2 linked regions of the Homo sapiens genome follow. The protein of the gene in region 1 purifies or fractionates together with the protein of each later gene. This does not show direct contact. Each region holds a gene or a part of one and is shown on either strand. Other genes may lie near its edges.

The links.
Region 2: the proteins of ATMIN (region 1) and WRNIP1 purify together in Homo sapiens (affinity purification with western blotting; one study listed by BioGRID). This does not show direct contact.

What each region holds. Positions count from the first base shown.
Region 1 is NC_000016.10:81,038,630-81,042,449, forward strand, and holds part of ATMIN (ATM interactor), read left to right. Parts: exon of another isoform or gene 1-1,682; intron 1,683-2,726; coding exon 2,727-2,852; intron 2,853-3,651; coding exon 3,652-3,820. UniProt on the Homo sapiens protein: Transcription factor. Plays a crucial role in cell survival and RAD51 foci formation in response to methylating DNA damage. Involved in regulating the activity of ATM in the absence of DNA damage. May play a role in stabilizing ATM.
Region 2 is NC_000006.12:2,768,317-2,772,136, forward strand, and holds part of WRNIP1 (ATPase WRNIP1), read left to right. Parts: intron 1-374; coding exon 375-566; intron 567-1,741; coding exon of another isoform or gene 1,742-1,797; exon of another isoform or gene 1,798-1,803; coding exon 1,804-2,045; exon of another isoform or gene 2,046-2,060; intron 2,061-3,820. UniProt on the Homo sapiens protein: Functions as a modulator of initiation or reinitiation events during DNA polymerase delta-mediated DNA synthesis. In the presence of ATP, stimulation of DNA polymerase delta-mediated DNA synthesis is decreased.

The sequences.
Region 1 (3,820 bases):
ATGGAGATCTGTACCTTGTCTGGTTACTACATAGAAGGCTTTTCAGGGTCTTGCTCTGTTAACCCAGGTTGCTGTCAGGCTCTTGAGCTCAAGTGATCCTCCTGCTTTAGCCTCCCCAGTAGCTGAGACTATAGGCTCCTGCCACCATGCCCTGCCTCAAACATTGTTCTTTTTGTTTGTTTGTTTGAGACAGTCTCACTCTGTCGCCCAGACTGGAGTGCAGTGGCATGATCTCGGCTCACTGCAACTTCCGCTTCTCGGGTTCAAGCAGTTCTCTTGCCTCAGCCTCCCGAGTAGTTGGGACTACAGGCATGCTCCACCACGCCCGACTAATTTTTGTTTTATTAGTAGAAACAGGGTTTCGCCATGTTGGTCGGGCTGGTCTTGAACTCCTGACCTCAAGTGATCCGCCCGCTTCAGCCTCCCAAAGTACTGGGATTACAAGAGTGAGCCACTGCGCCAGGCCTCAAACATCAATGTTGATACCTGTTTTCAAAGTACTGGAAGAAGGTAGGGGTAAGGACAAGGAACCGGGAGGAAGGCTGGCTGGGAAGCTATCTTAGGTTTTAAGAGCTGTGTTGACCAGAGACTCCATCCACTTTCTGCCCTGAGTATCTTATTGGCAGGTTTTCTTATAGTCAGTGGAAATTTTCGGTCTTAGTTACAGCTGCTTGCATAATTTCTTTCATTGTTTATATATTTTCTAGATTATATTTTCTTCCCCTCCCCACTAGTTGCTGTTGGTTCTTATTTTATTCTAATCTTTCTTCCCAAAACACCCCACCCCCAACCAAATCTTCCCTTCTTAACATAAATGATGAGCAACGAGGATGGGTGAGAATGAGGAATTGGATTGCAAACTGTAGAGTATGTGCCGCCTTCTGGTTTGATGTGGGTGCCTAAGGTATATGGCCATATTCCATATCCTGTAAGGAAATCCAGAAATCTAGCCCAGCCTTGTGTATGGTGGGATTCATGGAGAAATGAAAGCCATGAGGATTCAGGGGCAGGAAGAGCAGAAGTAAATGTACATTTTTTTATTCCTAGAGATTCTTTTGTTCCTTGTGTGTGAAAGCAGTGGAGGGGACAGGCAGGCACTTAAAGAACCTCTTATCAAGCAACATTTATATTGTAAAACATGGCTTAGAGGATTTTGTGTTATTTTTAGTCCAGAGGTTTGTTTTTAATGATTTGCCAGAAATTTTTTAAGGAAAGGAAAGGTTCCAAGTTACTCTATAGACTATACTGTACAAAGATTTCTAATTTTAAATTTAGAATAAGATGACAAAGCAAACCGTTTCCTTCTTGGATGCTTTCTCGGAAGGCAGTCAGGTGGTGCTAGAGTAGCTAGACAGACAGTTTTTCCTAGTTTTTGCTACAGTTCTTACAATCGTTTCTTTTCACCCTCTACTCTTCAACTGTGTCTTACTTTTCCTCTTGTATATTTTCTTTCTGTCTTGTTACTGGATTGTTTCCTCTCATAGGTTCTCTTTTCAGTTATGCGCACAAAAGATACAGTACAAAAAGTCCAGTGCATTTTATTCTTGAAAGTATATAGAACTTCAGAATGAAAACACCACTTTCTCACTGCACTTCCATTTTATCGTGCCATTGCCATTTCTCATCTGAGCCATCCTACCCTTGAGCTTATTCTCTGAGGACAGAAATGGGAAGAAGGCCCCAGAAGCAGTGGGTGGGGGTGGGAGGAGGCTGCTGTGCTGGTGAGTGGTGGGGTGTTGGCTCTCAGAAAACAGGAGCATGGACAGTGTCAGCTTGTTGCCATGACAGTGAGGTTATTAACATCCACTTAGACTGTCTTCAGTGGTCTCTTACCCAGGCATGATAGTTTTGGCTTAGATGGCTACCTGAAGAGATTCAGTATAATGCTACCAGTTTTTATTGAACATTTATTCTGTTCAAAACATTCCCAAAGGCAACAGAAGATACAAATAAATCTCTGCCCATGTAAAGGTGTGGGGGGCATTAGAAGGCGTTCTCTTCGGTGTAATGAAGTAATGAGAGAAGAAAAAGTAGTTTGAAGCTATGGAGTAAGGGACTTTGAGTATCCCAGGCTCAAAAAGTTGGGACTTGAACAGTACGGGGGTGCTGCTGAAAACGTTTGAGGGAGGTAATGACATGATCGAAGCTATACTTGAGAAAGGTGAATCTGATAAAGTATGAGTGAAAAAGAGACTGAAGGTCTAGAAATTAGATTGAGGCTAATGACAAAATCCACATAAATAGGAGGACTTGAACGAAGGGGCACTTAGAAGAGGACAGGAGATAGTAAAAGGCATTCAATGATGAGAGCACACACTACAGGGGAGCATGAGGGAGGTTGGAAAAGATAATGAAAGGATTACCGAGCTTCACTGACGATGTGTTTGAAATGAGCAGGAATCTTGTAGTGATCCTAATCCGTGGTTTTCTGGAGCATTTCACAGCCTAGGAACATACAAGGGGGGCATCTCCCTGGAATGTAAATTGACTAAGAGGAATTCAGTAATGGTCAAATGAATGCAGAATTTTAGAGTCTTGCTTAGTATTCTCACCACATTTCGTTTAATCTACTCATACTCTTTTTCTCTTACTGCTGACACTAGATGGAAAAACTCTTAATTAAAAGTATTTCACAAAATGTGCTCGTTTTCAGTCATTCCGTTTCCACTCCAGCCTGTTGTGTTGTTTTTTTGAAATAATAATTTAAAGTAATTTTCCTTTTGCAGGATGGCATAGTCAATCCAACAATAAGAAAAGATTTGAAAACTGGACCGAAATTCTACTGCTGTCCAATTGAAGGCTGCCCCAGAGGCCCTGAGAGACCGTTTTCTCAGTTTTCTCTCGTAAAACAGGTACTCTCTACTCTGAGGATGAGATACAGATGCTAAAAACCTATTGTGCATTCTGATTACTTAGCAGACATAACTACAGAATTGAGTAGACAGCTGCTTGTGAGGGGAGATGCCTGCGTGTCTCCCAGTTGGTATAAACCTGAGTATGCTGTTACACAAGTGGAGGGAAAAGCGGCACGGTCTGGAGGGAATATGTCTAGAACTGAGTTAAAATACAGAGAGAGAGAGTAAACCAGTTCAGCAAAGAATGAGAAAATGTTTGCTCGCAGATCTCCTGTGTGAGTCTGCATACCTCCAAGGGCCCAGCGCAAAGGCACAAAGGAACTGTTCTCCCAGGGGAATAAGAACCTGCAGAATCCAGGAAAAGAAGAGTTTTGGAAGCCGCAATCTTAAGAGGAGGGAGGGCCCCAGTGACTGGGACAAGAGGTGATTCAGAACTGGAAGAGATTGGCATCTGAAATGTTCCCCTGAGGGTCTGCTGGAGGGCGTCCTGAGAAGAGCATTGTAAAGACATTTTTTTCCTGCCTGCAGCACTTACAGATCAGAGTGTAAATGCTGGAGACCATAGATGTTTCCAAAACAATCTCCTCACTTTTCACAAAGCAAAAGCAACAAGAAGAGGCATATATATAATTAACTGCGATGTTCCTGCTTTTACATTCTTTTGACTTGGACTGCTGTATTTTATGTTATTTATATTAATAGTGTAAAATCATTATTAATTTGGGTGTATGATGGTTTCTGAAATGTTTTGACCAGTTGCTGTTTTTCACCTTAGTCCCTTCTGCGTTCCTCCTAGCACTTTATGAAAATGCATGCTGAGAAGAAGCACAAATGTAGTAAGTGCAGCAATTCGTACGGTACAGAATGGGACCTGAAAAGACATGCAGAGGACTGTGGCAAGACCTTCCGGTGCACATGCGGCTGTCCCTACGCCAGTAGAACAGCACTGCAGTCTCACATCTACC
Region 2 (3,820 bases), on another chromosome or scaffold:
TAGAGGAGGGAGAATTTTCTCTTTGGTGAGAGGTCACAGCTGTCACTCTGCTAAATCAAGACAGCCGTTCTTTACTGGGATTCCAAAGATCTTAAAGAGTCACCCAAAAAGGAATCAAAGGTGGTTAGGGACAGAGGAGAAAAGGTCAGGATTAGCCTAAGGTTTAGCTACTTTCCTGTTTTATTTATAATATTTTTGTTGTTGTTGTTTTTAAATGTCCTGTGGTATTTTTGATTGTTTCTGTGCTGCTCAGCATTCTTCCGAGGTCAAGTTGCTTTTGGTAAATAGTGATGCTGCGTGTGGTGGTTCCCATGGGTGCTGGTCTCTCTGTGTCTTACCAGCTTTTCAAACTCCATGTATGTCATCTTTTCTAGACCACTCTGGCTCACATCATAGCCAGCAACAGCAAGAAACATAGCATAAGGTTTGTGACATTATCTGCAACAAATGCCAAGACAAATGATGTGCGAGATGTCATAAAACAAGCTCAAAATGAAAAGAGCTTTTTCAAAAGGAAAACCATCCTTTTTATTGATGAGATTCATCGGTTCAATAAATCTCAGCAGGTATATTAACTTCCTTCTACCTTTTGGTCGTTGTGAACATCAAACAATATAAAGTGTGTGAGATCACTATACAAACGCTAGAGACTTACGAGCTTTGTTTACAAAGAAGCGTAGGCTTGTGAACCCATCTCCTTCAAGCCTATTTCTCCATACATTTCTTAGTGTTTTTTGATAACAAGAAAATGCTTTCTCTATCTGATAAATGAAATGGTTGGCATATCCCTGAGCTATACGTATCAGAAAAGCACCTTTGAATCAAATTTCCAGTTTTAGGAATTTTTAATCTAAATACTAGGAGTCATTGTGAACAGTAAAATAATGATTTTAAGGTCATTATTTTAATGGGTTTTTAAAAATTACTTTAACAGTATTTTTATTTTGAAAATTAAACAATCGGTATTTTCTGTAACTCCAGGCTCTGTCTTCAAGGTGAATGTTGGAAGAGCTAATGATTACTGTTTATTTAAATGGGTTTCTGAAATAAAAGGACACAAGCTATTTTTATAAACAAAGCCACTTAGGGATTTAAAAAAAAATAAACATTAAAATTTTATTGGGCTGAGATCTGAGAGCTATACTCTAAATAAAAAAAAATTAAATTTTTAGGCATAACTTTAAAAAATTTTTTTTTGTAACTTTTTAATCATACATAGAATATTTCACAAAACTCTACTGAGCCTTTTTTGAACCTTTTTGAATAAAAAGACCCTTTTAAAGTTCTGACGAGGCGTTAGCATTCTAGGTTTCATATTGGACCACTGACTCATCTTAGTATTTTTTCCCCATAAAACAGCATAATAGGAATAATAATAATATGATTGAGTGCTTGCTGTGGAAGAAGATTCTGGAAGTGTTAATGTTTTTGTGTGTTCTTGTCTATAAATAAATAGCTGTTACATATAAGCTATGTGCCAGTTCAGCCTTTGGTAGAAGATGGTTTTCTGAGTAAAGAAATCATTTATGTTGAAACTAAGCTAGAATTCTACTTAAAGCTATTAGTCTACCAGCAAGAGATCAGGCTTGGACGGGCATTCCAGAAGATGTGTTTCAGACTTAAAAGCAAGAGTTGTACTCCCCCAAATATTGCATCTATATTCAGTGAATATAAGGCTGCTGCTATTCCTGAACTCGAAAGATAAAAATGAGGAAAAGGAAGGAAGGGATAGCCAACTTACATAGGATTCTGCAGGTGGCTGTTGACTGGAATCACTTTTTTCTGTTTTCCTCCCATGATTAGGACACTTTCCTTCCTCACGTGGAATGTGGGACGATCACTCTGATTGGGGCAACCACTGAAAACCCTTCCTTCCAGGTCAACGCTGCTCTTCTGAGCCGCTGTCGAGTGATTGTTCTTGAGAAGCTTCCAGTAGAGGCAATGGTGACTATTTTAATGCGAGCGATCAACTCCCTGGGAATCCACGTCCTAGACTCTAGCCGTCCCACTGACCCTCTGAGCCACAGCAGCAACAGCAGCTCAGAGTAAGTTGACAGTGTGCAGCGTCCTGGGGGCACACACCTCCCAGAGAGTCTCCTGGCAGGGGGCCAGAAAGGGCCGGGCGTCAGTGAGGAGAGGGTGGGGACAGAGAAGAAATGTTGATCCGCCCGTAATGAAAATAAAAGAGGAGGGAAATGTTCGATTATACCTAACAAAGTTATCCCTGCACACTTGAAGATGCATTTTCCAGCCTCTAATATGTGTTTCTATAATTCTTCAAGCTTTAACTTTGCTTTGTTGTTTTGGTTCTTGGGTGTTTGCTTTTGTGCTTAGGCTTCTATGGGAAGCCTTATTGATGATTTGAAAGGCTTTATGTCCCTCATTGAATAGAACAAATAGATAGATAAATACTTTCTAGACTTACCATACAACTCTTTTGAGCATTGTACTCATGTTTCAATTTCTTTTTAACCTGCAGTTTAGCATTTTGTTAAAAAAAAAAAATCAAGTAAAAATTAACTTGTAACCTTAAAATTATGTAATCCTTTTTGTGTAGTTGAAACTCAGTTTCATGAAAGTAAAGGAATGTTAACTGAATATGACATTATAGGCTGTCCCTATCCTTTTAGTGACCTATTTCTGCATCATGAGTACCACATGAGCTCGTTAATGCACCAAGTGTATATCATAGATAATTTGATTTCTTGGGTCAGGGGTTTTCCTTTTTTTTAATATTAGAACATATTCTTCAGATGGTATTTGTTCATACGTTGGCTGAAATACTGCCATGGAACATAATCTGGTGTGATGAGAGGCTATTGCCCACCTCCTCCTGCTGTGGACTCTGCAGCTGCTCGTGCCTGCCCTGAGGCCAAGTTCTGGAGCCACTTTTCTGTGAGGATTAAAGTACAAGGCATAGTTTAGGCTCAGGGTTTAGGTTTCACCAGGCTCTCCCTATGTGTCTGGCCCCATTTGCTCCTGTCTGAGATGGAGGGAGAATTCTGCTGTGTCTAATGAAAGCATTGAAACATTTGGCCCGTGGACCACTGGGTAGGACAGAGTGGCCTTGTTTTGGAATACCGTTGTGATGGGGATAGCCATTACATCTGTGGCCACAAGCAGTGTGTGGAACCTGTGGTATCAGCCACATGGACTCATACTCAGAAGTGCTTTATGTGGTGGGCATTTGTCAGAGCCTAAGGGGGCTGCCAGCTCCTCATATGTAGTACAGGTTGAGTATCCCAAATCTGAAATCCAAAATGCTCCCAAATCTAAAGCTTTTTGAGCACCTTCATGATGCTGTGAAAGGAAATGCTTATTGGAGCACTTCAGATTTCTGGATTTTGGGTGCTCATCTGGTAAGTATATAATGCAAATATTCTAAAATCAAAAAAATAGGAAATTCAGACCACTTCTGGTCCCAGGCACTTCAGATGTGGGATACTCATGTGTAGGTTTCCCGTAACAGAATTCTCATTACAGACGCATAGAACCACATGGTAAAGACAAATTGAAAGAAAAGGGGGGAAATCCTAACATGTTTCATGTTTCTGTGTGTTCTTTGCTCTGTGTACTGGTTATCGTAATGTATCTGCAACTTAATATTCTGCATGTGTACTTGTCTGGGGTGATTTTTATTGATTTCATGTCATCAGTTCATGAAATAGAACATGAAATCAATAATTAATATTGATGACATGAAGTCAATAATAATCAGTTGTTACTCAGATACCCTCAGGTTTTTTCACCTCTCCCCAGTCACTGCCGTGCAGGAATTTAAAGGAAATGAGAAAGGCGGCAGCCAAGGAGCTCATCCTTG